Linked DNA regions of Homo sapiens. The protein of the gene in region 1 interacts with the protein of each later gene in a pairwise test. Each region holds a gene or a part of one and is shown in the gene's direction. Other genes may lie near its edges.

The links.
Region 2: the proteins of SSX3 (region 1) and SSX2IP interact in binary tests that used the Homo sapiens proteins (3 or more experiments, as listed by UniProt).
Region 3: the proteins of SSX3 (region 1) and ZNG1A interact in binary tests that used the Homo sapiens proteins (3 or more experiments, as listed by UniProt).
Region 4: the proteins of SSX3 (region 1) and CEP63 interact in binary tests that used the Homo sapiens proteins (3 or more experiments, as listed by UniProt).

Annotation. Positions count from the first base shown.
Region 1 is NC_000023.11:48,353,286-48,361,219, reverse strand, and holds the start of SSX3 (protein SSX3), read left to right. Parts: upstream 1-4,516; 5' UTR 4,517-4,586; intron 4,587-5,950; 5' UTR 5,951-5,970; coding exon 5,971-6,039; intron 6,040-6,473; coding exon 6,474-6,588; intron 6,589-7,125; coding exon 7,126-7,221; intron 7,222-7,934. UniProt on the Homo sapiens protein: Could act as a modulator of transcription.
Region 2 is NC_000001.11:84,680,094-84,687,938, reverse strand, and holds part of SSX2IP (afadin- and alpha-actinin-binding protein), read left to right. Parts: intron 1-5,471; exon of another isoform or gene 5,472-5,741; intron 5,742-5,954; exon of another isoform or gene 5,955-6,111; intron 6,112-7,551; exon of another isoform or gene 7,552-7,601; intron 7,602-7,845. UniProt on the Homo sapiens protein: Belongs to an adhesion system, which plays a role in the organization of homotypic, interneuronal and heterotypic cell-cell adherens junctions (AJs).
Region 3 is NC_000009.12:147,378-155,222, reverse strand, and holds part of ZNG1A (zinc-regulated GTPase metalloprotein activator 1A), read left to right. Parts: intron 1-427; coding exon 428-514; intron 515-3,144; coding exon 3,145-3,189; intron 3,190-3,795; exon of another isoform or gene 3,796-3,918; intron 3,919-4,497; coding exon of another isoform or gene 4,498-4,516; exon of another isoform or gene 4,517-7,845. UniProt on the Homo sapiens protein: Zinc chaperone that directly transfers zinc cofactor to target metalloproteins, thereby activating them.
Region 4 is NC_000003.12:134,544,676-134,552,520, forward strand, and holds part of CEP63 (centrosomal protein of 63 kDa), read left to right. Parts: intron 1-910; coding exon 911-1,144; intron 1,145-1,473; coding exon 1,474-1,613; intron 1,614-2,659; coding exon 2,660-2,797; intron 2,798-4,386; coding exon 4,387-4,501; intron 4,502-5,387; coding exon 5,388-5,585; intron 5,586-7,250; coding exon 7,251-7,337; intron 7,338-7,845. UniProt on the Homo sapiens protein: Required for normal spindle assembly.

The DNA of each region.
Region 1 (7,934 bases):
CAGTATGTTGAAACCCCATCTTTACTACTGATACAAAAATTACCCGGGTGTGGTGGCGCGCACCTGTAGTCAGAGCTACTCGGGAGGCTGAGACTGGAAAATTGCTTGAACCCAGGAGGCAGAGGTTGCAGTGAGCCGAGACACTGCACTCTAGCCTGGGTGACAGAGTGAGACTCTGTCTCAACAACAACAACAATGAACTATTGATACACAAATATCAATATCTTGGAGAAATCTCCATGGAATTATGCTGAGTGAAATAAGCCCATAAAACATGATATACTATAAGATTTCACTTGTACAGCATTGTAGAAAAGACAAAATTGTGGAAACGAAAAACAGATTTGTGGTTGCCAGGGATTAGGGATGGCGGATGGGAGGAGAGTATTACTAAAAATGAGTAGCACAAGGGATAGCATTGCGGTGATGAAAATGTACTGTACATTTTTTTTTTCAAGAGGGATTCTCACTCTGTCTCCTAGGCTGTAGTGCAGTGGCACGCTCTCGAGCTCACTGCAACCTCTGCCTCCTGGGTTTGAGCTATTCTCCTGTCTCAGCCTCCCATGTAGCTGGGACTACAGGCGGGTGCCACCATGCCTGGTTAATTTTTGTACTTTTAGTAGAGACGGGGTTTCTCCATGTTGGCCAGGCTGGTCTCAAACTCCTGACCTCAAGTGATCTGCCCACCTCGGCCTCCCAAAATGCTGGGATTACAAGCGTGAACCACTGCACCCGGCCATGTTCTGTCTGTTTTTTTTTCTGAAATACAAGCTTTGTTTAAAATGTAAAGAAATATTAAAAGTAAACTTTTTTTTACAAATTATAATCAAGCACTCAAAACAATTTAGGAATGTTAAACACTAATTCTTAATTCAAAATAATGACATCCATAGACTATATCCTGGTGTTGGTCAATATAAAGTTTACTTAATATTAGTATTTTATAGGCCGGGCACAGTGGCTCACGCCTGTAATCCCAACACTTTGGGAGGATGAGGCGGGCGGATCACGAGGTCAGGAGATCGAGACCATCCTGGCTAACACGATGAAACCCTGTCTCTACTAAAAATACAAAAAATTAGCCAGGCGTTTTGGTGAGCACCTGTAGTCCCAGCCACTCGGAAGGCTGAGGCAGGAGAATGGCGTGAACCCAGGAGGTGGAGCTTGCAGTGAGCGGAGATCGAGCCACTGCACTCCAGCCTGGGTGACAGGGTGAGACTCCGTCTCAAAACAAAAACAAAAACAAAAACAAAACAAAAAAACTAGTATTTTTTATATGCTTAACCATTGATCGTTCCTAAAATTCAATGAAAACAATGATTTGACTTTATAAGGTGAAGCCTTTTATGTAATACGCTAGAGATATCTTTTTCAAATACAAAACCTTTATACCAGCAAGGAAATTATAAAAGCATATATAAAGTATACTGAAGGATGTGATTTAAAGGCTGTCTGTATATACAGATGCATTTCACCTTATAAAGTACACGTGCACATCAAAACACTTTCACTGAATATAGATGCCATTACATTCTCTTAACACTACAAAGCAAATGTCAGGTTCATAAACATTGTCCTATTATGTATCAACTGAAAAAACATATATACACAAAAAGATTTTGAAGACACATGGGAGTGGAATGTGCCTACATTTAGAGCAGAGCTTTTACAGGACCACCTGTCTCCAGCCGGCTCCCAGGAACCACTGAAAACAGCTGCTACCCTCAGAACGGCAAGATGGTCTTGTTAATGATTTCACTGGACTCTCGAATCTCATCCTCCTTGATCACCAGCAGAGGCGAAACCTGATGATGTCACCATGGGTGGGCTTGGCCAGAAGTCCATAATCTCGAAGTCATAGACACACCTCCCAAGCATTACAGTCTATGGTTTCTTTAATAACAATAGCATTTAATAATTATTTTCCTCCCGGGCACAGTGGCTCACGCCTGTAATCCCAACACTTTGGGAGGCTGAGGCGGGTGGATCGCCTGAAGTCAGGAGTTCGAGACCAGCCTGGCCAACGTGGCGAAACCCCGTCTCTACTAAAAATACAAAAATTAGCTGGGCATAGTGGTGCATGCCTGTAATCCCAGCTACTCAGGAGGCTGAGGTAGGAGAATCGCTTGAACCCAGGAGGCAGAGGTTGCAGTGAGCCAAGATTGCACCATTGCACTCCATCCTGGGCAACCAGAGTGAACCTCTGACTCAAATAATAATAATAATAATAATTCTGTTCCTTTTATGGCAGTTACAACATCAGAAGGTAGCTTCATGGGTTCACTTCTCACGATAATACCCATTTTTTTTCTGCATTTTCAGCAAGATTTTCTTGTTCTAAAACCTCAAGGGCTGCGATGGTCACTCAGCAGCCTAGTGGATTGCCACCGTATGTGGACCCATGTTCCCCTGGCTTAATGCTCAGCATTAAGCCATCATCCCACAGCACTGCAGACACAGAGTATCAACCTCCAGAAAGGGCCTTTCCAAGGAGGACTATATCAGGTCTGACATTTTCATGATCAACAGCCAGCCATCTACCAGTTCTGGCCAATCCTATCTGTATTTCATCAGCAATGAACAGAACCAAGCTGGGAGCACGAGATGGGACAAGGGTAAGTTAAAATACCACAAAGCTCCCTGTTCTTACGGAGATTCCGCTGATCTCTCTCTTGCTCTTTCTTTCTTTTTTTTTTTTTTTTCAGTCTTGCTCTGTCGCTCAAGCTGGAGTGCAGTGGTGTGATCTCAGCTCAATGCAACCTCGGCTTCCCAGGTTCAAATCATTGAGTGAGCCCAGGAGGTCAAGACCAACCTGGGAAACATAGCAAAAGGCAGGGTAGTGCATGCCTGTAGTCCCAAGGCCGAGGCGGGAGAATCACTTGAGTCCCGGAGGTAGAGACCAGCCTGGACAACATAGCGAAACTGTCTCTAGTAGAAAAATTAAAAATATTAGTGGGGGCGGGGTGGTGTGAACCTGTAGTCCCGAGGCCAAGGCAGGACGATTGCTTGAGCCTAGGAGGTTGAGGCCAGCCTGGCCAACATAGTGAAACCCCATTTCTACTAACAACAAGAACAACAAAAAAATAGCGTGGGTGGGGTGGCTCACTCCTGTAGTTTTGAGGCCAAGGTGGGAGGATTGCTTGAGCCCAGGAGGTTGATACCAGCCTGGCCAACAAAGCGATAGCCTGCCTCTCCTAAAATAAATAAATAAATAAATAAATAAATAAATGAAAATAAAAATGAGCAGGGCAGAATGGCACACGCCTATAGTCCTGAGGCCAAGATGAAAGCATCATCTGAGCCTAAGAGATTGAGGCCAGCCTGGGCAACATATCGAAACCTGGTTTCTACTAAAACGAAACAAAACAAAACAAAAAATAGCTTGGGCAGGGTGGTGCGTGGCTGCGGTCCTGAGGCAGGAGGATCCCTTGAGCCCAGGAGCTTGATGCCGGCCTGGCCAACATAGGGAAACATGGTTTCTACTAAAAAAAAAAAAAAAAAAAAAAAAAAAATCGTAGGCAGGGTAGTGCATGCCTGTAGTCTCGAGGCCATGGTGGAAGAATGCCTTGAGCCCAGGACGATGAGACCAACCTGGCCAATGAGACCAGCCTGGCCAACATAGCAAAACCTGGTTTCTACTTAAAAAAAAAAAAAAAAAAAAAAGCGTAGGCAGGGTGGTGAATGCCTGTAGTCCCGAGGCCGAGGTGGGAGGATCGCTTGAGCCCAGGACGTCAAGACCAGCCTGGCCAACACAGCAAAACCTTCTCTATTAAAAAATCAAAAAATAAAAAATATTAGTGGGGGTGGGGTGGTTTGCGCCTGTAGTCCCGAGACAGAGGCGGGAGGATTGGCCAAGGCAGATGTAACCAATACCACAATCACATCCCATAAGTAAATACATTTTCCTCTCTCCAGGGCTACAGGTAAAGGATGGTAATTCTGCACACCACACTTAGATTCCCTTTCAAAAATGTAAGCAGAGGTTGGAGGGCCTTGGACTGTTTTTTCAGTGGCAACAGATATAGAAGCCACTGAAGAATGAACTCCACGACTAATTATAGCAAACCTCCGCAAATGTGCTAGTTTGGAAAACATTGTGGCTTTCAAGTAGAAAAATCACAGATTGACTATTTTTTTCTTCCCACAGTTCAGACTAGAATCCAGATTTTTAACCCAAGATCCAGGAACAGTCTTCAGAGAGATCAAAATCTGACGGCGCCTGAGGACCACCCACTTTTTCGCAGTGGCGACAAGGTGTGGCTGGAGGAGGAGACATTATTCTGCAATGTCGCTGCCCAAGGATGATGGACCAATCAGGGCAGTTAGTGAACTCCATCTGGCCAATTAGAAGTCAGAACAGTAGGCGGAACAAGCGAAGCGGATGTGGCTTCTATCAGTCCCGGCTCCAGGGACACAACCTTCTCAAAGTGGGGGTGGAGACTCTAATTTTCCCGCCTAAAGCATCCCCTGGGATTCGCTACTTTAAGTTCAGAGTACGCATGCTCTGATTTTCTCTCTCTTTCGATTCTTCCATACTCAAGAGTACGCACGGTCTGATTTTCTCTTTGGATTCTTCCAAAATCAGAGTAAGAATACACTGATTTTCTTTTTCCATTCTTCCTACCCCTCCCCTCCTCCGTGGTGCATTTGCTATCTAGTTTTAATAAGGAGTGTATATGAGGCAGGCCGCCATCTTAAATCTTTCCTGTCAGTTTCTAACCGCCATCTCAAATCTTTCCTGTCAGTTTCTAACTTTTTCAGGTATGGGATTTTTCCTAGGAACTCTGTAGTAACTTAAGAAATTTGGGCCTGGGGTGGTGGCTTACACTTGTAATCCCTGCACTTTTGGAAGCCACAGCTGGTGGATTGCCTGAACCCAAGAGGCGGAGGTTGCAGTGAGCCATGATCACGCCAGTGCACTCCCGACTGGGCAACAGAGCGAGACCCTGTCTGAAAAAAAAAATCACTCAAATCTTTCCTGCTGGGCTCAAGTGATCTTCTCACCTAGGCCTTGGGACTACAGGCGCGCACCACCCCGCTTCTGCTAAATTTTGTTTGTTTGTTTTTTTTAGTAGAGATGGTTTTGCTACGTTTGTGAGCCTGGTCTCAAGCTCCTGGGCTAAGGCGATCCGCCCACCTTGGCCTTCCAAAGTGCTGGGATGGTACAGGCCTGCTCCACCAACCCCAGCTAACTTTTTGTTTATTTTGTAGACGGGGGTTTTGCTGTGTTTCCCAGCCGGGTCTCGACCTCCTGGGCTCAAGTGACCTGCACGCCTCGGCCTCCCAAAGTGCTGGGATTACAGGCCTGAGCCACTGCGCCTGGCTGATTGCTGCAACTTGAAATGCCCCACATTCTCTCTAAGTGATGGCGGGCTCTTGTAGTCTCAGAAATTCTAGCTCTCTTCGTTCTAATAACTTACAAATCACCCAGTAATAGCCTCTGAACACATTCATATTAGCGATGCTCATTTCTCTTCAGCAGAACAGAACCCCCCATCCCTCTGCCTGATCAGATCCATCACCAAAGAGACCACGTTATCTCTGGGACTAACTTCCCTTCCTTTATTTATTGAGCGGGGGTGTCAGCATGCCCCACTGAATAAAATTACACAGTCATGTCCCTGCCTCCCCAACAAGGGTCCATACATCTTTCAGGGGAAGCCTAGCTCCAGGGAAATTACTAACAACATTAGCCAACCCCCTCCCAAAGACTCAAGGCTGCTTTGCCCATAGGAAACCTGTCATCCCCTATCAATACTTCTCCCAGAGACCCCTGGTTCCTGGTTTTCGTCTGATTTCTCCCCATATCCTTACTCAGGGACAGATAAGCCCCGGATGGAGAAATGCAGCACCTGATTCCAGGTGACTGAGTGGCCGGCCTTCACTGATTTCTCCCTCCACAAGACCAAAGGTCCTGCGGCTGGAAAGTCTCAATCTGTTTCTCTTGCAGGTCAGACTACTCCCTGTGCCATGAACGGAGATGACACCTTTGCAAGGAGACCCACGGTTGGTGCTCAAATACCAGAGAAGATACAAAAGGTGAGGTGACCTAGAGGGAGCAGAGTAGTGACCCAGGGGACAGTGTGGGGTGACCCGGTTTCTGAGGAGGGGAGGACAGAGATACTGGAGACAAGGAGCAGGGTCTCAGGGGAGATCTGGACCCTTGGGAGCCTCCCACCCTCACTCTGTCATCACCTAGCATCCCTGGAGACAAGTCTGTGACCTTGCACTACATTTGGTGACTCTCAGTCCATTCTGGAAGGTGGGAGGAGAGCCAGCCAGCAGCATTAAAGCCCGACAGTGTGGCAGGGGTGAAGCTAGGAAGGTCCCTCATGTTCTGTCAGTTAGCCGTGGCATCAACCAGGAAGGATTATCCCCACTTCCCAGATCCAGCACACAGGAAGCGACTCCAGCTGAATGGCAGACATGCCTAGCTGAGTCCCTGCCATAATTCCTTTTTTTTTTTTTTGTAGGCCTTCGATGATATTGCCAAATACTTCTCTAAGGAAGAGTGGGAAAAGATGAAAGTCTCGGAGAAAATCGTCTATGTGTATATGAAGAGAAAGTATGAGGCCATGACTAAACTAGGTAACAGAAAGTTCTAGGTACAGACAAGTCTGGGGACACATGAGCATCCCTTTTCCTGCTTTGGCTATTTCTTAGGCTGCAGAAAGTACCTCACATTTTCCTTTTGTGTAGGGAAAAATCGCAAGGCAGCTTCTGGGTGTTCTGCTCTTCTATATCCTGTCAGGGCTGAGGGCAGTGACTGGCCACAGTGGAGCTCATACCTGGATCCTGCACGTTTCTCTCTCTTAGGCTTCTGTTCTGATGAGCCCAACTGTCTCTGTGGCATCCCGGCAACCATCCTACCCCCACCCCACACACACCCACTCTACCTTCTCTCGGCTTGTCTCTTTCTTTTTTTTTTTTTTTTGTTTGAGTCAGTCTGAATCTGTCACCTAGGCTAGAGTGCAGTAGTGCAATCATAGCTTACTGCAGCCTTGAATTCCTGGCCTCAAGCAATCCTCCAGCCTTAGCCTCCCAAAGTGTTGGTACTACAGACATGAGCCACCGTACCAGGCCCAAGCTTGTCTCTTAAGGAATAAACATTTTGCTTCTTTCTAGGTTTCAAGGCCATCCTCCCATCTTTCATGCGTAATAAACGGGTCACAGACTTCCAGGGGAATGATTTTGATAATGACCCTAACCGTGGGAATCAGGGTGAGTAGATGGGAAGGGGCTGGAAAGGGTCTCCTCAAGCCCAATTGCTTTTCAGCTCAGCTACCTGGGAAAGAGCCTCAGGCATTTGTTCCCTCATACACATCGGGGCAGAGTGAAAAAAAAAATTGCATGCAGAAAGTTAACTACAGAGGTCATTCATATAAAATTTTAAAACATGCAAAAGAAGAATATATATTTTTATGGATAATAAGTAAATGGTAAATGTATACAAACATGAATGTGAATAAAAAGCCATCAAACTAAGGTGACTGGCTGTAAGTGGAGGAGGGAGGGAGGGCAGGGATTGCTGAGTGCTGCACAGACAGCTTCAGCTGTGACTTGTTGATAGTGTGTTTTGTTTGTTTTTGTTTTTGAGATGGAGTTTCACTCTTCTCGGCCAGGGTGGAGTGCAATAAGGCAATCTCAGCTCACTCCAACTTTCACCTCCTGGGTTCAAGTGATTCTTCTGCCTCAGCCTCCCGAGTAGCTGGGGTTACACGCACGTGCCCCCACACTCAGCTCATTTTTTAATTTATGGTAGAGACGGGGTTTCACCATGTTGGCCAGGCTGGTCTCAAACTTCCTGACCTCAGGTGATCCACCCGCCTCAGCCTTCCAAACTGCTGGGATTACAAGTGTGAGCTACCACGCCCGGCCTGTTTGCAGTTTTTCTAATATTCTGAATAAATAAATCAGACCTAACTTAGCTGTGG
Region 2 (7,845 bases), on another chromosome or scaffold:
AATTTCAGCTGTGTCTGGTAGAGGCAGTGGAGTTCATCAAGCAGCTGGTGCATTCTGCAGCAGTGTACAGTTGAGTTACAGGTGGCTTGGTAGAGTTGGACCAGGGTGGGGTTGCCATATTAATAAGGCTGTAGAACAGTGCTGTGAACATTGACCAGTAGGTTACAGGGAACCTTCAGAAGGTTTTATGAAGGGGAATTATATTTTATTTTTACTTTAGAAGGATATTTCCACCAAAATCAGTAATTTGAGTGATCCAAAATGTATTGAGTATAGTGCAAATAATATCTGAAAGACAGTCCCACACAGCAGTTAGACTTGAAGTATATTTTGCTGAAGCCCTCAGAAACTCCAGAAAAGCAGAAATAATTATACAACAAACCTTTCTTAAGTATCTTCTACTTTGAAGACTGGAAGAATAGGGATACAAATTAAATAAGATACTTCCCCATTTTCAAGCAACCTGCAGTTCAGTAGGAGAAATAACACAGTTATAATGCAGTACAGAATCTGGGTGTCAGACATAAAAATGTCAGACTCTAGCAATGTAGGATTCTGAGATGAGAGAAGAAATAGTCTTTCAAATTAGCAAAAATAAGTTTTTAAATAGAAATGAAACTACAAGCAGTTAAACATTCAGAACAATCTTAACTCCAGTTGTTCTCATCTTTTAACTCTTGCTTCACACATATCCTTTTCTCATATTCTCTTGAGTCACATTTTCGGTTTGATCTACCACACTACTAGCTATGTGATCTTGTGCCCTGGTTGTCGCATTTATGAAGGATAATAACAATACCTGCTTCGTAGGGGTGTGATTAGAAAAATAGGTTAGTATCCAGAACAATGCCTGGAAAAATAGCTCATACTTACTGAGCACTTAATATTTCTACTTGATATAAAAATGCTGTAATTGAGTAAGAACAGACTTTAAAGACAGGATTTTTTTTTTGTCATGCTAGATCTATCCATGAGCGTCTAATAAAGCCTCTACATTCAGAGAAACTAACATTCTTTTAAACTGAGATTCTTGAACAAGTGATTTTCCTTTTCTTATTTGGTGATCATCTTTCTGAAGTCTGATTTTCATTTTTACCCCTCAGCTTTGTCATTAAGTCACTAATCACCGAATTCAACACTTTTTAAAATTCAAAACCTGCCCATTCTATGGCATTTGCTGCTGTGTATCACCCTTTCTCTTTAAAAGTCTTCTCCCTTGGCTTTCCTGAAGTCCGTTCCCCTGTCTCTTTGTATCTCTTGTGTCTGGGTCTGCTTCACTCGCTTATGTTGATGTTCTTTGGGGTTTGTTCTCCTGCCCCTTTTTTCTTTATGAATTCATCTATCTAAATGTGCTCGGATGTCTTGTGAGTTCTAGGCCTAGAGTTTATCCCCATGTGAATGTCTCATAAGGGCATCTCCAAACCCAGTAAGCTACACAAAGCTCATTATCTCCACACATTTGCCCAAACCCAGTTTTACTAACTTTACTCCTCTGTTCCCTTTATCTAAATGACACTATTATCTGTCAAGTGCCAAAGACAGGTTTTTATGTGAGAGAGTAGATGCCTCCCTTTTGTGTACTTGTCACCATGTCCTGAATTATTTCTTACCTGTTCTTCACTATCCTCAGTCACTGACTAAGTCAGCCAGCTGGTCCCTGACCATTAATTGCCCAGTTTACTATAATATCTGTCTCAAAGATTTTTTTTTCAGATTATAAAAGTATTGTATGCTTTTTGTAAAAAAATTTTAAAAATTAAGATAAAAAGCAAAAAAGTATTTAAGTTACTTCATGTGTAGTTCTTGGCATACAGTCAGCACTGAGAATATATTTTTGTGCCACGGTGCTACAAATAGAACTTATTTTGCAAGCATTAAGTTTGGAGGAGATTTGTAGAGAAATATTGTTCTAAAAGAATTGTAGGACTAAATAATTTTGAAATCGTATATAGAGCCTAAATAGTGTAAAGTAGATACTTAAAATTCAAGATGGGTTCCAGCCACTGCCTATACTTTTCATTTGCCTGTTAATTGTAATCTGGTTGTGCTTTCCTATCTATTTTATTCTCTATTCTATAGCCTTCGATTTTATTTTCTATTCTATAGCCAAATTTCAGGAATATCCCCCTGCATAGGATCTAGACTATAAAAGCAAGCCAACATCATAGAAATAATCTGTAAGTACAACCCATCATTAGCCATGTTGTTTTATAATGAGGCGATAGGCTCAGAGAATTGATATCATTTGCTCAGCATATTTGTTGAATGTCAGGAGGAAACCAGGCCTGTGAGGCTTTGGAATCATAAATAGCTAGTTTTTAGTCTTTCCAGGTTAAATAGCTGGATTTTATTTCTGTCTTCCAGGTTTGTAACTGTAAGTTACCTAATCTGTTGCCTCAGTTTCTTCCATCAATAAACCAGTGCTATCTTTACTCCTTCCTAGGGCTAGCGTGAGGATTAAGTGATAACAGCTAATGGAGCCCCATCTGGCATGCATTAGGTGCTCTTGAGTTCATCATCAGCTTCTCTCCTACCAGTTTCACATAATTAGCTAGTACAGGAGTTATTAACTTGCCATCCATGGATCCTTTGCAAATGGATGGCTTCATAGATCCTCTGAAACTCTAGCCCAAATTGCCTGTTCTTGTACTTTTAAAGGAAGAGGGTCATTGGCTTTGGGTTTTGGGACCCAAAACATTTTAACCCCTGAGTTGGCAGTAAGGCCAAGGACCCAGGGCTCTTGGTGCCTCCACAGCCAAACTGACTGGGTAGAATTTAGAATTGTTTGAAATATTGGAGGAACATTTTATATATATGTATTTAAAGCATTTTAAAGGACTTCAGGTGTAAAGAATTAGTTTATATTCCTTGGCTCATGACACGTTTGTTTAATTGGTCCATTTATAGTTTTAATAATACAGTAAGTACCACCTAACCCTGTGCATAACCCTGTGGGCCCCTCCATTCCTTTTTCCTCTGTCCCTCACCTGAGGCAGCTATTTACTGAATCCTATATTCATCATTCTCTCGGTGTCTTTTATAGTTTTATTGCATCACATAATTTAAAACTGTATATATTACATGCCCTATCTTCTGAAAATTTTTTCATTTTATAATACTGAAATTTATATTATGTGTCACTGAAGTTTTCTGATTACTGCATAATATTCCATTTTGTGCATATGGCATAATTTATCCATTCTCCTGTTGGTGGTATATGGGTTGTTTCCAGGGTGATACTCTTGTGCTACTCGCTATTGTGAAGAATGCTGCTGTATAGGTGCACACCTCCTGGCATACGTAGGCAAGAGTTTCGATTGGGTTTCACTAGGAGTGGACTTGCTGGGCTGTAGAGTATGTGAATAGGATAAATGAATATTCAGCTGATGAACTGTTTATTTTTCAGAGTTTCCCCCCATCCTCTAAGGTTTAATAAGCTGCTTAGCCAGGCATTCCCTAGGACTGTTATTTTCAGCCTCCATTTAGTGCTTTGGAACACTTTTACATCATTCTTGGAATCCATTTTGTAGGACCCTTAGATAAGAATTCCTTTTTGGTGTTCTCTAATTGAAAGTGCATATAAATAGAATACTAATTTATACTGAACCACATTCTATAGAACACAGCAGTGATTCTCAAACTTTGTCAGAATTACGTGGAGGTTCTCCCACCACTAAAGTTTCTGAATCTGTAGGTCTGTAGTGGCACTTGATAATTTGCATTTTTATTGAGTCAGGTGATGTTGATGCTGCTGGTCCCAGGACCACACGTTGACAACTATAACCAATGATTGAATTTGGGCTAAATCATTGAAAAAACGATGAGTAGATTTATTAATTATGTTTGGTTTCTTTGTTATTTCCAATGCCTTTAGTAGATGCTATTACCATTTCATTATTTGAGGAGTGAAATACCAATAAATAGTAATTTTAAAATTTGATTTGGACTTCTTAGCTGACTTTTAACCTTAAAAGTTGATAGACTTCTAAAAGTGCCTCTTTTTTTTCTTGTTTCTTAATAATCTTCTAAGAATATGATTGCTGCTATTCCTGTGTGTACATTGGAAGAATTTGAAACTGATACACTGTTTGTAAATTGCCATGCTCTTGATTCATACCCTGAATCACCTTTCTCCTTCTCTGAGCTGTTACCAATCAAGATTACGTTGAAAGCCCTTCCAAATTGCAGCATGGCCAAAGTGTTGACTTGTCTATCATACTAAAACAGCAGCAAACCTTACACTAATACATCCTTGAACTTGGACATTCATTCAGCAATCTTGACTGGGCTCCAACCTTGGAGTGAGTGATGATGCCTGTTACCGAAGTGGGGTACAAAGAATATGCTGACAAGCCTGCCAAATGAGAACTCAGTTGTGGTGGGAGAGAAATTTTATTCCTGTTAGATCTGTGCTGTAATACAGTTCATGTTAAGTGTTCTAGAAGCACAGAGAGAAGGGATGGCAGTGCAGGGAAAGCCTGGCAATATATTTGCTAGGTTTTTCAAAATTTTTTTGAATTGCTACATCCAGAATTTAATATTTTGTCTGCTTTTGTGTAGTTCCCATTCCAGTTATTCAATTGGCATAATTATTTGATTATAATTTAGTTTCAGGTGAGGTGGTAAAGAAGAGAATACTTGTTCGGTTTGAAAAAGCAGCTTGAGGGGAGGAAGAGCATTAGGACAAATAACTAATGCATGCGGGGCTTAAAACCTAGATGACGGATTGATAGGTGCAGCAAACCTGCACGTTCTGCACATGTATCCCAAAACTTAAAAAAAAAAAAAGCAGCTTGAATATTGTATCCTTCCCCCTCTCCTGTACTAAAGATAGTAGGGTGTAATGTTAAATGTGCTAGACTACCAGGGTTTGAATTTTGGCTTTGTCATGTTCCAGCTCTGTATCCTAGGTCAAGAAAACTCCAGGCTTCAGTTTCCTTATCTGTAATGGGGGAAAGTATTTGGATCATTGTAAGATTGAATAAGTTCGTACACATAAAATGCTTAGAATTGTTCCAAGTAATTGCTACATGCTTAATAAATTATTTTATTGTTATTAAAATTAGGTAGAATCTCATTTGCTAAACATTGGGTTGTAAAGACAATGTGTGCACATTGTTATAAAAATGTGAAGAAAAGGCAGTGCGTGATGGCTCACACCTGTAATCCCAGCATTTTGGAGGCCAAGGTGGGAGGATCACGAGGTCAGGAATTCGAGACCAGTCTGGCCAACATGGTGAAACCCCATCTCTACTAAAAATACAAAAATTAGCAGGTGCGGTGGCATGCGCCTGTAGTCCCAGCTACTCGGGAGGTCAAGGCAGGAGAATTGCTTGAACCCAGGAAGCAGAGGTTGCAGTGAGCTGAGATCACACCCCACTGCACTCCAGCCTGGGCAACAGAGCAAGACTCCGTCTCAAAAAAAAAAAAAAAAGTGAAGACAAAATAATTTTGATATAAATAGCTGTACTCAGTTCCATATTGGGTCCTATGAGAAATGTAAAAATCAAAAGATAATAGAACTTGAAATTCTTTAAAGGTCATCTAGTTTGACTTCATAATTGAAACCCAAAGAAATTATGACCGGTTCAAGGTTTCTCAGTACATAACAGAAGTGTTGCTGAGAACCATGGCCTCTGATGCTACTCAGTCCAGCGCTCTCTCAGTACCCTGTGCAGCTTCCCTGAAGTGACAGCGCCCTGGAAAACTAACAGTTTAATTGGCAGCCAAGTCCAAAACAGGTGAAAACATTAGCAATAAAAAGTCAGTATATAATGGAATATCAGATGGTGTACATAGATTAAGTCCCTACCGTATTTAACTTTGTGAGCTGCTCTCTTGAAGCGGAAATGCACCTTCTTAGTAATTTCATTCATTGAAGGTTGAAAGATGAAGAGCATTTGTTTTTGAAGAGGGTGTTAATAAAGTCAATTTCCCTCTTTCCTCCTACCAAGGTTGGATTGTTCATTAAGCCAGGGGGAGAGTCCACTTTTGCCAGGTCTGCCAGTACTCCATGGCTTTGCCCTTGATGATAGTTGGGGAAAAGTCTGGCCTCTGTATTTCTGTTCCCTGTCTTCCTGATGGGCCAGATTCCCACAGACATTCCCTCAGGTATGAAGACTGCATTACCCTTGCTCATGGGTATGCGTACATATGTGGAACAGGTGCTAGAAGTGTACCTGATTGGTGGGATTTGTCTAAGTCGAGATTTCCACTCAAGGACAGGGCTGCTACTTTTTGGGATTGAGCTAAGAGTACTTTCACACATTATCTCATTTAATTGTGCTTGAATACTCTGCTGCTAAAAATTTTACAGAATAATACATGCTCCTATAACATTCAAGCTATATAAAGATATGCTATGGAAGAGGTGAAAGCCCTGCTCTTCTACCCCTCCCTGTACCCAAATTATTCCATCCCAAGAAGTGTCATTTGTGACATTTTGTAACTTTTCCAGAACTTTCCCCTAAATATATATAGGTAGTTTGAGTTAACAAAAAATGGTGATCATACTGTTCTAATTAACCTGTAACTTCTTTTTTTGTGCTATACATGCATATGTGCTTTAATCTTTAATAATCCCAGAATAGCCTGGCTGTACCATATGTGTTGGTTTTTAACAGTTTGTCCATGATGGATATTAAGATTGTCTCTAGTTTTTTGCCATTTCAAATAATACTGCAATTCAACAATGTCCTCAATATATATTATGCTTGCTCTCTTATATGCCTAGAAGTATGATTGTTTAGTGGAAAGATTTACACATTTCAAATATTTGTATACTGTTGGAATTGCCCTTTAAAACAACAAACTACTGATCTCTGGTAAAGTGCTATTTCCCTTACATAATTGACTATCTTAAAAAACTGTAGGACATTTGTATAATTTTCTAACCAGTTTTTGCCCAACAAGACTGCTTGCTGTTTTATTTTATGCATTTTTTATCACTCATGCCATTCTACCATTGGTTTTGGTGGTTCAGAATGGTGCTGTTTATCCCCATTTCCTGTGCTTATCATCACCATAATTGCCTTTTAAAAACATAAATTTTTTTTCTTAATATGAAAAACACTTTCATTTATAGAAAATTTGGAAGACACAATAAAATAAAAGTTATATTTTTGTGCATGAAAGTACATAAAGAAAGGAATGAAAGTCCTGCCCTTGCCTTTTCCCTATTTTTTAAGTTGGTTTTTCCTTGCAATTTTTTCTGTCCTTATACCAACTTTTGTGTTTATAGAGCAGAATTTATGCCTGTACATATCTACTGATATTTGTTTTTTTTTCCTGAGGACTAAATAAGCTCATATTAGATATGGTTTTGTAACTTTTTTACATTACTTAACAAAATATCATGGAAGTCTTTCCAAGAGTAAAATAGCTAATAATAGCTAGCATTTATTGAGCACTTACCATGTACCCATGACCTTTTTTTAAGCCCTCTACATGCATAAGTTTATTTAATAAAATTATTAAAGAAATTTGGTAACTAAATTTACTGTTTAACCACATAATTTTTTGAGGTAAACTGCTTTTACTCTCCTTTTGCAGATGAGGAAAGTGAGGCCCAAAGAAGATTTATGTTCAGGACCATTTAGTCTGTAAGTGGAGAAGCCGGGGTTTGGAACCAGATGGTCTGGCTTTGGATTTTAACTCTTTTACTGTACTGTTTCTCATACTGCAGCAATGATCAGTTCAAAGATATATAAGGAATTTAAAGAACAGCATGTAGCTCCCTGCTTTCTAAGCTGAGGATGGCTTTCTAATGGCAGATTTTGGCCAGGAGCTTCATTGAGATTATATCCCTCAACCCAGAGATACACATGAATTATTGTACCATAATTT
Region 3 (7,845 bases), on another chromosome or scaffold:
AATATTACAGTATTTTAGTAGGTAAACTCTTCTTCTTTTTACCATATTGGATATCTGAATTTTATGCTTTTCTTCACAAAGAAAATTATGAGTTTAAAATCATCCTTTTGATTGTAAACTTTTTGAGACTTATCTTTGTAGCACAAGAGTAGCAAGTAACAGAACTTAGTAAATACTTTGCGAATGGGTAATGTGAAATCTGAACTTGCATAGTAATGAACACAATTCATCCACATTGAAAAATTAGCGGATTAGGAGTAAACTGAGTCACTCCTATAGAGCACTAGATAATTCTTAACTGATATATTGATCTACATGAGGCGTTTTTATTTATTTTTGATTTGTTAACATTCCTCTTTTGATGTATTAATCTGCATGCGTGTATATTATTTAAAGTTTCTTAACATTTCTCTGTTTGCTATTTTAGACAAGTTGCTTTGGCAGATGCCATTCTCATTAATAAAACAGACCTGGTTCCAGAAGAAGATGTAAAGAAATTAAGAACGACAATTAGGTACGAAATGATAAGTGTGTTAAGTGCCTACAGATCCATGTTGTATACACAGAATATTTTTTACTCTGATTGTTGCCCTGTAGAAACTTAAGGTATAAGGTTGAGCTGCTTCAAGAACGTTAGGGAATCACATATATTGTTGATGGCTAATTGTTATATAAATGGTAATACATAAAATTAGTCCCCAGTGCTTGCAGAATATAGTTCACAGTTAATAGACTGATATTCAGGGTCTTCGCACTCCATCTTTCTTTTCCTGTCTTCTCTTTGACTCTTTCCTAATGTCAGTCTTCCCTAACTTTACCCAGGATGGTTAATTCACTTTCCCATGGATGCATCCTGTCAGTTCCTGTCTTTACTCGTAATGTATTCTCACTCTGCCAATCCCTGAGTTCTTTCTTGTTCTGCTTTTTTTTTTTTTAATTTATTCTATAGAGCCTATTCTGTCTCTCCCCCCTTCCTATGTGAAGTCTTCCCTGACTCAAGTGGTCTCAGTTTTCCCTGAACTCTTGTTGACTTCATCTTCCTTAACTGTCAACCATGCCTTGTCTTCCAGCTTGCTTTAATATCTTCTTTGTCCATAGCCAAGGCTGATCAGCATAGGACAATCAGGACAATATGAATGATGCTCAAATATGTGCTAACAGTCATTTTGCTGACTGTTCTGGAGACTCCCATTCCTTTTGAAAACAAAGATGGGCTTTTCAAATGAGGTTATAGTTCAGGGGCTTTGTTTTGAATTATTTTGTAAGACCTGAACTAATAAAAGCCCTATACAGAGAGACATTCGGTAGCTATTAGTATTGGTTATCTTTAATGTGTACAATGCTTTGAGCGTGATGGCTCAAAATTACTATTCTTAGTATTTATAAGTTCTACTGACATTAGATTTTGAATCTGTCATCTCAGTTCATATAGTATATATTATCAATTGAATCAATAAAGGTAAGGCTCATTAGGAGATTATTTGCCATGATTAATGATTGTGGAAGAAAGAAATTCATATTTTTTCCACATATTTCATCTTATTTTAATAGTAATGTCCTTAAACTTTACTATAAAAAAATATAATGTCTCCACGTGGAGGGTAGGTATTGTTGCGTAGTGTTGAAGATCACAGACCTTGGAATCTGCTTGGGTTCTAATCCTTGGTCTGTTTCTCATTGTCTTCTTAGGGAGCTTATTTACCCTTTTAAAGCCTCCTCTGTAAAAGGCATAATGCCTATCATAAGTTTGCTTTGAGTATTACATGAGACAATGTTGGTAAACTTTGCACAGTGCTGACACATAGTAAGTGCTCTGTTAGCTATTATTATGTAATTTTTTTCTTAGCTTACATAGTAAGTTCAAGGTATAGTAAAAAAGGGAAGAAAGAAAAAGATGGCTGATTTTGAAAAGGAGAAAGTGATGAATGAAGATTGCTTTTACATTTTTTGACACTGGTCTTCTAATCTTGTTTCTCTTCATAAATCTTGTGCACCATTGTGATTGCTAAGAAGAACACAATCTATTTAGCAAATGTTTTTGGCATAAAAGGAATGATAATTATTACTTGACTTTTATATCCTTATAGAGACCTAAGCTAAATCTCTGACACTGACAATATTGACTATTAGCCAGCTTGTTAACAGTACTAGAAATGAATTTGGAAGAAGCAATTTGATAAATTACACACCCTTTTGGCTTTTACCCTCCCTTTATATCAGACTTGTGACTGACTCAGAATGATATTTGGGGAGGTGAAAAAAGGTAAACATGTTTGAGAGGAATTAGCCATCAGACTAGAGTGTATTCAAAAAAGAAGATTTAAGAATTTTGTAAAATAGTGGAGAGACTTGCCTCAGAATCATTATATGTGGGAAGCCTTACCCATGAGAACAAACTTGAACAAGTAGCAAGAATCTTGGGTAAGTAACCCTAAAGACAATTGAATTCATGATAGAGAATTGATGATTGATGATAGGCAATGGAAAAGATAAATAGATGAGGTGTACAGTGTGTTGAAAAGAATTTAACAGGTACTTTTTGGTGCCATACGAAGCCATATTCTATAGTATCAAAAGAGGGAGAACAGGCATAACGGGTAGAGAGCCTAATTAGGTAACTGACGAGGTTATTCTATAAAGGAACCTGGGATGTGTGACTTAGAATTACTGTGAATACTAAGGACAGGCTGGGGGCAAAGCAACTTGCAACTAGGTTTTTATTTTTAGTGTGTATATAGCCATTTCTACCATGTATGCCTGAGGAAAAAAGTGACCACCGTAAAAATTTTGAGTATCTACTCATTTTTAAGAACACTAGGATAACTGACTATTTATGAATGATTTTTTCTAAAGTGAAGTGTCTTTTTATTAACCACAAAGTAGCCCTTAATCTGACAGTTGTGCGAATTTTTGCATATATGTTTTATTAATGTATGAGTGGAATATATGTGATTTATTGTTTGAAGGAAAATCACAATTATTTTTTAAAGCAAGTTTTGTTTTTCTGTTTTTAATTTTTTTCTGGTTCCAGATGTATTTGGGTATGCTTATTTCCTGTTTTAGAAACAATATACTTTGTATACTTTTTTAAAAAGTTAATTTTTACTTTTAAACTTTGTCTTCCTCATTTATTATTTATTTCAGATCCATAAATGGACTAGGACAAATCTTAGAAACACAAAGATCAAGGTACTTTAAAAAAGCTATTCCTATTAATAACAAATCATTTTAGTTATTAATAATAAACATTAAATAATTGACAAATATGCTTGATTCTAATATAAGAAAGATCTAAGTGCATTTAAAAAGAATTGGATCCAAAATGTTGTTTGGAATGCTCTTAATAAGTTAGTTTGGCATATTTGGCTAGTACATTTGCCTGTCTTCAAAACTAAGAATACAAAGCCATGATAACACTGTGTAAGTGTTTGCTTAATGAGGAAGAAAAGACTTCCAAACACTCGAGAGGGTAACTCAGTACAGAAATCTGAAGTATATTGAGGAATCTTAATTTGAAGTGTTTAAATGGCTTTTTAATATTTAAAAAGCCTTCTTAGTGTTTTATAGTTGCCAAAAAATACATGGAGTCTTTACCTTGAAGTTCCTGACAAATTCTTTTATTAAATTTTGACTTTCATTTTCTCTAGGTTCTGTTCCTAAAACATCTGTGAAGTGTATTTCTGTAGATTAAATTCTGTTTTCCATTGAATGTTATCTTAATTTCAGAAAATTTCTGTGCAGGGTTATTTTATTAAGCTCATTTTTTTTTTTTTTTTTTTTTTTTTGGTGAGAAAGGCTCAGCAGCTAATAGACTCAGCAACAGGCAGCCAGGAGCTCTGAGGCTCACAGCTGGCAGTCTAGTTCCACTCAGTCTCTACTGGAGAAATTCTTTCTTTGGAAGTACAGCAGAGGCCTTAGGTGAGTGGCTTGTCTGCTATGGCAGAGATTAGAGGTGCTGCCAGACTGCCATAAGTGTTAGGCAGTAACAGCAGCAGCTGCTTATATGCATGTGAACAGCTGGGGAATTAATTTGGTATGCATTCTCAGGAGCCACTCATCTGCTGGCAGAGGTAGCAGAAGAATGCCCTTAGTGTAAGTCCTCTACAACCATACACCAAATGTGCTCCCTGCATTTCAAATTCCATTGTAGAAAGTCTCTGATAATCTCACTTATACTATGAGCCATTCCTCAGTATCTGTCCTCTTCCTGTTAGTGTTCTACAATTCCTTTCTCCTTAATTTTTCTCCGCTTTACAAAATGTCACACAGACAAGTGCATAATACTTAAACAAGCTTTTAAAAATAATGCTCATAAATAGCTTTGGTTCTGTCATAATATTCGTATTTATAAACATTTTAAGTCAATTCTCTTCTTTTGTTTTCATTTCAGAAATATCCATGTCCTGAATAAAAGTTGTGTCTTGATTAGTTTATTATGTAACAATTTAGTGTGTTTGACATTTCTAACTTTTATTTCTAACATTTGCTTTATTATAGAACAATAAACATGCAGTGATTGATTTTTCTTACTTCAAGTGGATGAGTGAGCAAGTGACTAAAATCTTCTGTGAATTATTCAGTGTATGGTGCTTGCCAGTGCATCTGAGAATCTAGGGACTTTCTGAAATAGTACTTCCTTGCTATGAGGACTGAAGTTGCATTAGAATCCTTTTCAATGAAGATCAGATGTCCTGAGTACAATTCTTACTATTGGGTCCTGAATCTTACATTAAATATTCTCTCAAATTCCTTGAGGCATAGCAACTTGAGCTTACCAGTTTAGAAACTGGAGATTTGGGCTGGGCGCGGTGGCTCACGCCTGTAATCCCAGCACTTTGGGAGGCCAAGGTGGGTGGATCACGAGGTCAGGAGATGGAGACCATCCTGGCTAACACTGTGAAACCCCGTCTCTACTGAAAATACAAAAAATTAGCTGAGCCTGGTGGTGGGCGCCTGTAGTCCCAGCTACTCAGGAGGCTGAGGCAGGAGAATGGCGTGAACCCGGGAGGCGGAGCTTGCAGTGAGCTGAGATCGCACCACTGCACTCCAGCCTGGGTGACAGAGCGAGACTCTGTCTCAAAAAAAAAAAAAAAAAAAAAAACAAAACCGGAGATTTGGTTAACAAAATAGTCAAAGTCACTCTTATAGAAGTTTTGTTTTATTTTTTGTTTAAAATTTTTTTACCATTTTGTAGCTGACAAGTACTGACAATAAACTGCTATAAGCATGTGTAGAAAAAGGCTCACCTTGAGTAGTTAAGAGTAAGGAAAAGGAATAGTGTGTAGCATCGTCTTAGTGGTAAGACTTAAGTTGATTTAGTAGCAAATGGAAGTACTAGTGAACCACATAGATTTCAGAAGTAGGAGTAAAAGGTTAGAAGATGTGTCATTTTAATCTTCTCTAGACTTTTTCTTAATTTTTAGAAATGTAAGTGGACTGAACAGAGGAAAACCAAAACACAGCTGGTCAATAATAAGTTAAATTAATTTGACAAACTGCCTACTATGCATTTCATAGCATTTTAAGGACTATATAAGCAATGGATAAGGCAAAAACTCTGCCTTTAAGGAGATCAGTCATTGGGGGGAAACAGAAGCAAACAAACAAAAAGGCAACATAATAGATATTAATATTAATACAAGAATTTTAAAAGCACAGAGTTCTATAATAATAGGAAAATAGAGGGAATGATTGCTCAACTTTTCTTGAAAAAGAGTCAGGAAAATATTGACCGAGAAGACAGTCATTGACCTGAGTCTTAAAGAATGAATAAGGCTTTTACAGATGGAGTAGGGTAGGGATAACTTTCCAGGTATAAGGAAGATTTTGTATTCCAGGGACCTTTGAATTTTTTAGAATGGCTAGAAAACTTGGTATTATGTAGCACAGAAAAAGTGGTATGACTGAAGAGATAGAGAACTTACCACAAAGGGTCTTGAATGCCATGATACATAGTTTGGATTTTCTTCTGTAGGGAGCAAGGAGTTAGTGAAGGATTTTAAAAGCAACATGCCTCTTGGGAGGTAGATTCAATGTGAGGCTAATCTCCGAGGTATAGGAAATACAGGAAGGAGGAGCAACAGGTCGGGTAGTGGTGGAAGCAGGTTTGGAAAATGTGATTAGTTTTGTAAGCGTTTTTGAGTTTGAAGTGCCACTGGGGAAGGCTTTTGGAAATTTATTTCCAGAGTTCAAGACTGAGCTATCATTGCAGTTTGCTCAGCTATTTACTGAGCTATCTACTGTCAATTTGGATAGTATCTACAGTTTGCATTGTAGATACTGGATACTTGGATTGGCTGGTGCACCCTGTTTGTGAGACTCACTGGAGTTTGAAGAGATGACCACTGGAAAATATCCCTAAGCAGTAGCTGCAATTCCACCCCCACCTTGGAGAGCCAAAACCCTCTTCATTTTCACTCTCCTGTCCTTGGTCTTAGGCTACTTAAAGCAGCCTTTAGACATAGGGAAAAATTGAAAGCCTCTCTTTTAAGAAAAACATTAGGTACTTCTGGAATAGAGAGTTCAAGAAATTAGGAGAAAAATGAACTTTTGAAGCTTTTTCTTTCCCTTTTTTGTTTACTTCATTCTCTTACTCAGTTTTAAAATGCTGGTAATGGTCTTTTTTTTCTTTTTTTTTTTTTCTTGGCGATTTTAATGCTTTGGAAAAGATCTCATGGTTTTATCTCCAAAGGAGGAAATTAATTTGATGCCATGGAAATTAGTTTTCTAGTCGTATGCCTTGAATGAGTGAAGAATTTGTTTTTCATGGTGGTACTAAATTTGGGGAAAGCTATAGAAACTTTCATCTGGAAGCTTACACTTTTCCTCTTTTTTGAAAATTTGGTGAGAGACTTGGATATTTTATTGTTTTCTGTAAAAGAGTGTAATTTGTTGTACAGGTCTAATATTGATCCTTTTTTGGAAGTATGGAAAGAATCTGAGTATAAAGCAGAATTACCTCTGGATGGCATGTATTCTCAAGGACACTGTCACAGTGAAACAGTTTATTTAGAAGCTTGTGTTTCCAAAGTGTTGAATTTGATATTCACAAAATTGGCATGTGTAAACTTTATTAAACTTTAAGCTATTTCCTAAGATGAAGATGACAAACTTGGAGGGAAACTTCATTCATTTGGTTTATTTTTATTTTTATTTTTATTTATTTTTATCTTTTTGAGACAGAATCTCACTCTGGTTTGAGACAGAATCTCACTCTGTCCCCCAAGTTGGAGTGCGGTGGTGCGACCTCGGCTCACTGAAACCTCTGCCTCCTGGGTTCAGGCGATTCTCCTGCTTCACCCTCCGAGTAGCTGGGATTACAGGTGTGCACCACCACACCCAGCTAATTTTTGTATTTTTAGTAGAGACGGTTTCGCCACATTGGCCCGGTTGGTGTCAAACTCCTGGCCTCAAAGTGATCCGCCCACCTTGGCCTCCCAAAGTGGAGCCGCCGTGCCCCTTGTCTGTGACCTGTCAATATAAATATGCTCAGTAGCGGGGGGAGGGGGAGGTGAAAAAGGAAATATGTTTAATATTAAGACTTTGGCCTTTTAGTGTAAACTGATACTCAGAAATTTCTTCATAGAACATTTGCTTCTTTGCTTGATCATTTTTCTAATTCTGTACATCTAAAATGCCCAGAATTTGAGTTGCTGTTATAGTCTACTAACATAGAACTTTGGAGTAATAAGATGGGAATTTGTCTCTCTTTTGCCAAGACAAGCATTCGTAATCTAACACAGTATTGTTGCCACGAGTACGAGTATGTGATAGACTGTTGAGAATAAAGAAAGCAGGCACAGTTGGTCAGTCCTAAGATAAAGGAGATGTTTTTCTTATATGTTT
Region 4 (7,845 bases), on another chromosome or scaffold:
ATTCTAATTTCTAAACTTCCATCAGAAATATAATAATGCATTATAGTTCCTATTTCCTATGTTTTAAATAGGAAATAATTCCAGCCAGGTTGCGGTTGAATTTCTGTGTGAGTAGGTAGAATACTGTAGCATCTCTTCTCCTGAGGAATCCCTTTACTTTATCCATTCTTTTCTATTTATTTATTTATTTGAGACAGGTTCTTACTTTGTCACGCAGGCCGGAGTGCAGTGGTGCGATCTTGGCTCACTGCAACTTCCGCTTCCTGGGTTCATGTGATCCTCCCATGCCACTGTGCTCGGGTAATTTTTGTATTTTATTTGTTTGTTTGTTTGTTTTGAGACAGAGTCTCATTCTGTCACTAGGCTGCAGTGCAGTGGCGCAATCTCGGCTCACTGCAACCTCCAACTCCCTGGTTCAAGTGATTCTCCTGCCTCAGCCTCCCGATCCCGAGTAGCTGGGATTACAGGCACGCGCCACCACGCCCAGCTAATTTTTGTATTTTTAGTAGAGACGGGTTTCACCATGTTGGCAAGGATGGTCTCAATCTCCTGACCTCATGATCCGCCCACCTCAGCCTCTCAAAGTGCGGGATTACAGGCGTGATCCACTGCACCCGGCCAATTTTTGTATTTTTTATAAAGACAGGGTTTCGCCATGTTTCCAGGCTGATCTCGAACTCCTGAGCTCAAGCGATCTGCCTGCCTCAGCCTCCCATAGTGTTAGGATTACAGGCGTGAGCCACCACTCCCAGCCTCTCAATTCTTTCTTACCCCTTCGCAATATATATATATATATTTTAGTGAGCCAATGCTTTATGTTTTTATGGAAATAATAGTTTCATTTTAGTCTTATTCATTGATTATTTTATCATTTCCCTTTTACCTATTGATTGATAGTCTGTGTTTCTAGGCTCAGCTTGTCAATCGGAAACAGAAATTAGAGTCTGTGGAACTTTCTAGCCAATCAGAAATTCAACACTTAAGCAGTAAACTGGAGCGGGCTAATGACACTATCTGTGCCAATGAGTTGGAAATAGAGCGCCTCACCATGAGGGTCAATGACTTGGTTGGAACCAGTATGACTGTCCTACAGGAGCAGCAGCAAAAAGAAGAAAAATTGAGGGAATCTGAAAAACTATTAGAGGTATGTTTTAAAATCACTATAATTGGGGGAAGTGTGTGTATGAGTATTTTAAGAGAGTGTTATTAAGCTAGAACTAGGTTCTACAATCCATACTTTCTTCCCTACTTTATAAATGATGGATCAGATATTGATAGTTTTACTAATATTGTGACTTTATTACAATATTTACAATATTGTAATATTGTTACGTAACTTATAGTCTGACTTCCTGGCTTCTCGTGAAATAGAAAAATTGTAATAATAGCTGGCTTAGAAATTTCTGAGTATTTTGCAGGTTCTGCAGGAATTAAAAAGAAGGAAAATTATAATCATATTTGACTTTTTTGCAGGCTCTGCAGGAAGAAAAGAGAGAATTGAAGGCAGCTCTTCAGTCTCAAGAAAATCTCATACATGAGGCCAGAATACAAAAGGAGAAGTTACAAGAAAAAGTAAAGGCAACTAACACTCAACATGCTGTAGAAGCTATAAGGTAAATTTAATCTTAAATATTATTCATCTTAGCCACTTAATGACTAGGTATTAAGCACTAGGCTTATTTTTATTTTTATTTTTATTTTATTTTCAGATAGTCTCCTGTTGCCCAGACTGGAGTGCAGTGGTGCAATCTCAGCTCACTGCAACCTCAACCTCCGAGGTTCAAGCCATTCTCCAGGCTCAGCCTCCCAAGTAGCTGGGACTACAGGTGCATGCTACCACACCTGGCTAGTTTTTTGTATTTTTAGAGACGGGCATTCATCATGTTGGCTAGGCCGGTCTTAAATTCCTAACCTCAGGTGATCTGCCCACCTCAGCCTCCCAAAGTGCTGGGATTACAGGTGTGAGCTGCCACGCCCATCCAAGCACTAGTTTTCATATTGCATATTCATAATTTTATGTTTGATCATATTGTGGATTTTCTTAATTGGCTTTAACTTCTGAGTTAGGTTTTTAAAGTGTTATAAAATTTTGTGTGGTTAATTTTCTTCTGCCACCAGTTAGGGTCCCTAACAGAGACTCTCATGTTTAGAAAGTTAGAAACCAAGGTCAGTTTGCATGCTTGGTGAAAATCCAAATGTGCAGGGAATTGTCATCCATGTCTCCTGGAGGCCTCACTTTGTTGGTGGAATAAGTTGTGATTAGTAGCTGCTTATCATTAATAGCAGCCAGCCATTGGGCTAGCCCTCTTGCTTGATTTAAGTCTGATGCACACTTTTATTTTTGCCAGAATTCTCCTGTAACTTTTCAGTTTTTTTGGTACAGGGTTTCAAGTGTCACTGAAGTGATTTTGCCATTTTGTCTTTTTCCCTTGAAAAAAGGCCAAATCCCAGTTAAGAAGGGAGTAAATTGCTACTTTTTGAAGTATCAGCATCTCTTGACTCTTTCTTTCCTCTCCCAATATTCTTTTTATAAAGCAGGAGACAAACTTGAAGAGTTCCAAAGAGGTTACCAAAAATGATGGGGAAACACAGACTAGATGAGCATTATTTTTGTTTGCAGAGATAAAGGCGTTAACAATCATCCTATGTCTTTCCATAGGCCACGGGAAGAATCTCTGGCAGAAAAGAAGTACACCTCTCAAGGGCAGGGGGACTTAGACAGTGTGCTCTCCCAGTTGAATTTTACCCATACTAGTGAGGACCTTCTGCAGGCAGAGGTGACTTGTCTTGAAGGCAGGTACATAATTATACACACATTTCAAAAATTTCAAGTTGTTAAAATGAATTTTTGATCATCATATTGTAAATGAATGTAATAGTCATAGTAAAAAAAATAAGATTTTTTTCTAGTATCCACAAATGGCCTAAGTTCTTATTTCTTTTTTTTTTTTTTTGAGACGGAGTCCGCTCTGTCACCCAGACTGGAGTGCAATGGCACAATCTCAGCTCACTGCAACCTCCGCCTCCCGGTTCAATTGATTCTTCTGCCCCAGCCTCCTGAGTAGCTGAGATTACAGGCGTGCACCACCATGCCTGGCTAATTTTTATATTTTTGTAGAGACGGTGTTTCACCATGTTGGCCAGGCTGGTCTTGAACTCCTGACCTCAGGTGATCCACCTGCCTTGGCCTCCCAAAGTGCTGGGATTACAGGCATGAGTCACCGCACCCTGCCCTAAGTTCTTATTTCATTGAGAAGACAGAAGCAATTAAAGGAGAACCTCTTAATCTTTCTGTCATCAAATCTACCAGTCTGCCCATACCTGTGCCTTTCTGCACTTCTAAGACCAACCACTCCACTTGTGTCCTTTTTCTGTAGTTATATCCTTTCTCTTCTGCATCATCAAGTTCTTTCTGTCTGCTGAATCTATCCACTGGTATAAAATACGCTGTAACATCACCCATCTGGGGGAAAAACCATCCCTTAATCCTATGTCTCCGTCAAGTTATTTCCACATTTCTGTACTTCTCTTTAAGACCAAATTCTTCAAAAGAGTTGTCTATACTGACTCTACTTCTTTACCTTTCACCTGTTTAGCAGCCCTTCACTTAGGTTTTCCTCCTTGCCACCTCAGAAGCAGGGTAGGAAGGGGTAACAGTTGACACATGGTGATCCTTTTTGTTCTGCTGTGGTGTTGTTACTTCCTTGGGTGTTAATTGAATCCTGACTAATGCTATACCATACCCACCTAAACACTTGTCATTGTCGTACTTATAGAATTTTTTTTGGTTTTTCATAACCTCTCAACTTTTTGATTGGGAAGAGTGTGATATCTTGTTTTAAACACATGAATCATGATCATTTGTACACTGACATTTTCTGTATGTAAAAGATAAAATTGCTTTTAACATGAACTGTTAACCTTTAGGCAAACAACAAGAGAAATATCATTTTACACTTTTTAGGTTATCTTTAAGTAATACATTTTTTGTTTTTACATTTATTTCTGGTTTTGGAAACCAGTAAGTATTTTCTTACTTTTATCTACATGTTAAATACACAAACATGCATACACACACATATTTTCTGCTTTATTCCTTTTGGAATACTTGGAGTACTTGAGATAGTCTTTGTTATTATTGAAGTATATGTGTACTCTTCCGTTTGACTAAAATTAAGTTTATTATTTTTGACGTTGGGACAACAGTTTACATTTTTATCACAGTTTTTTTATTGATTGGCTTTTTAGTAATATTTTAAATGACTGAGGTGATGTTTAAGATATTGGCTGGATATTTTTTGGATATCAAGAATGTAAATTAGATAGTCCAATTTATAGGTTTCAGGATTTTGGTTTTAAGTATGGGATCTTATTTTTGTCATACAGTTTGGAATCTGTGAGTGCAACGTGTAAACAGCTGAGCCAAGAACTAATGGAAAAATATGAAGAACTGAAGAGGATGGAAGCACATAACAATGAATACAAAGCAGAGATTAAGAAGGTAAAAATCTGCATACCTAGGATTGCAAAATTGTATGTGTTTATGGACAAAGCTGTGGATTGGGAGATTATAGGGGTTATTTTTAATGAGAAAAAAATGTAGTTCAAGGGACCACTTGATATTTAGGAGTGGAAGAGTTTGTGGAATGTGCATAGGGAAAGTGCCTTCTTTCTTTGGCATCGCCCCTGATGCCCAATAAATATTTTTAAGATAATTGAAGGCTGTCCCCTTTGAACTCAAAAACTTTATTTTAAACATGTTTTGATGAAAAGTTTTCTAAAAGACATACACTCTGTTGCTTGCAAAAAAATATGAACTGTCACTTAATATTTTCTTATTGCCTAAAGATAGTATTTATGTATTGTCTCCTGTGCTATGATGTAGTTAGTATCCTTGTCAGCTATTGAGGTATGCAGAGCTGTTTGTGTCTATATGAATGGGCCCTAACTGTCCTATTTGTTTGATTTGTATTTTTTGTTACTTCTTTAAGATTACTTCTAGTTCCTTACTTCCTCTTGTTCTATTTGTTATCCTGTGGACTAAGATACCATATGAGCAAAACTTTTAGATTCACAACTAAAAAAAAGAATGAAGGTCACAAGTACTCTCCTCTAAATTGTGTGCATGGACCTTGATTCTGGTCCTCAGCACTTGAATAACCCATCTCTCCCTGTTTTGAGGTATAATAAATGATTGTAGGTATAACCACCTGACCTTCAGTACAGATATGCAACTTGGTAAATTGCTAATTTTTCTGCAGATTTAATTTAAGAGAAATTTAATGTCTTGAGATAAGGTGAACTTTTATTTTATTAGCTAGTAACATATTATTCTATCTAAATGCTTTCTCTTAACTTTTGGTGCTTTCTTTTCTGCTTCTTTATAGTTGAAAGAACAGATTTTACAGGGTGAACAAAGTTACAGTTCTGCACTAGAAGGAATGAAGATGGAAATCTCCCATCTAACTCAGGAGTTACATCAGCGAGATATCACTATTGCTTCCACCAAAGGTTCTTCCTCAGACATGGAAAAGCGACTCAGAGCAGAGATGCAAAAGGCAGAAGACAAAGCAGTAGAGCATAAGGTGAAGCCTGAACAAAACCTTTTTTAAATTTGAAATTTGTTTTAAAGATGGAGTTGATTAAAGACATAATTTTCATAATATTTAATTCAGTGAATTTTTATTAGATACCTGCTTTGAGCTGAGAGTATGCTGGCTAGCAAAGAGTTTAGTGAGCATGGTGGGGAGGTGAGAGTAGACACAGACAAGTAAAGTGACTGTATCAGTGGTGTATGGTGAGAGTCACTAGAGATCACAAGCAGCCTGAATCTAGACCACTCGCTGCAAAGGCCTTCCAGAAGGTGTGATAGCAAAGCTAAGTTAGGAGCAAGCTGGGTGATGGGGAGGAAAAGTGTTTCAGGCACAGGAAAATACAGAGGTCTCTAAGAGAGAGTAGAAACACGCTTGCTGTGGTTGAAACTAGAGTACAAGTGGGATGAGTGGAAGGTATGAGACTGGAAAGCAGGGACTGGCTGCTGAAGGGCTACGTTAGCCACGTAAAGGAGTTATACTGTGACCTTGAGGTCAGTAGGGAATGGCTGCAAGCAGGAGTAAAATTCAGTGGTCCTTAAATGGAGAATAAGCAGGGAGACAGAGCACCCAGATGCTGTTACAGTGGTAAGATGGTGGCCTGAGCAGTGGGCAAGGGAGGCAGAGGGAAATGGATGAATTCTGGAGATACTGGGCTGGTAAAAATGACTGGGCATTGTATTTGATTGGCAGGGAAGGTGAGGTAGGCAGAGTTAAGGAATGGTGCTCCACAGGATTTAAACTTAGGCAACTGATGGAAAGTGATGCTTTTTAATGAAATAGAGAAAAGACAGGGAGCAAGTTTGGTGAAGGATGATGAATTTGTGTGAAAAGTACACAGACTGGGGAAACTGGTGGAGAGGACATTGGTTTGACACATTTGTTTGGAATAAAGGCTGGAATTTTGTATGGGTAATAGTCAATTCCACAGAAGGCCTGGAGTTGAAGATTAAAATCAGGATTAGGCATTTAGCTGTGGCTGTCCTTTCTTCATGGTGACATTTGAAACCCCCTGAGAGACTTAATGATTATAGTGAGAAAGCATAGCGTAAGAAGAGAAGTGACTCAAACCAAACTTAGGATACTTCTCATTTAGTGTAAAAAAGATGTTGGAATGAAGCTTAAAAAAAGGAGCAGTGAGGAGGGAAATCAGATAGTTTTTGCCAAGCCAAGGAAAGAAGGAATATTTTCAAATGGGAATGGTCAAGCACAAAAGCTGAGGGGAATGAGAACTGAATATAAGTTGTTATTTTGTGAATAAAGTACAATTCCATGTGACGTTGCAGGTAGAAGCCAAATTGGAGGAGGCCAGCACAGGAGAATGGGTAGGGATTTAAGGGGTTCAGTGGATTGAAACTTTGCTGCTTTGTCACCTGATTTATCCTATTAGAATGATATCTTCATCCCATTCATGTTCATTCACCTTAATAACATCTTAAAAATCTTTTTAGAAAGTCCATATATATATATATATATATATATATATATACACACACACACGTACATATATATATGTATATATATATATAAATATGTATATGTATATATATATAAATGAAGAATATGACTTAGCCTAATGAAAATTCCATGTGGAAAAATTTTGTAAGATGCATGTGATTTACATGTTATATTTATTTTTTTCTGTTTTCCCCTTTTCAGGAGATTTTGGATCAGCTGGAGTCACTCAAATTAGAAAATCGTCATCTTTCTGAAATGGTGATGAAATTGGAATTGGGTTTACATGAGGTACATAAATAGAAACTTAAGTTTTTCTACTATCCAAGCCTTCAAAAAAATTACTTTGTAAATATTTACATTATAAAGAGAGAATTAAGATCAACTTAGATCCTTTTGCAGAAATTTTCTCAAAGAAAATGAAGGTAAAACAATACTGGAAGTGAGCAAAATATGACTCTCCACTCCAGCAGCAGGAAGGGTTTTTGTTTGTTTTTTTGAGACGGGGTTTCACTCTTGTTACCCAGGCTGGAGTGCAATGGCGTGATCTTGGCTCACCGCAGCCTCCACCTCCCGGGTTCAAATGATGCTCCTGCCTCAGCCTCCTGAGTAACTGGGATCACAGGCATGCGCCACCACACCTGGCTGATGTTGTATTTTCAGTAGAGGCAGGGTTTCTCCATGTTGGTCAGGCTGGTCTCGAACTCCCAATCTCAGGTGATCTGCCCGCCTCAGCCTCCCAAAGTGCTGGGATTACAGGCATGAGCCACCGTGCTCGGCCAGGAAGGTATTTTTTTAT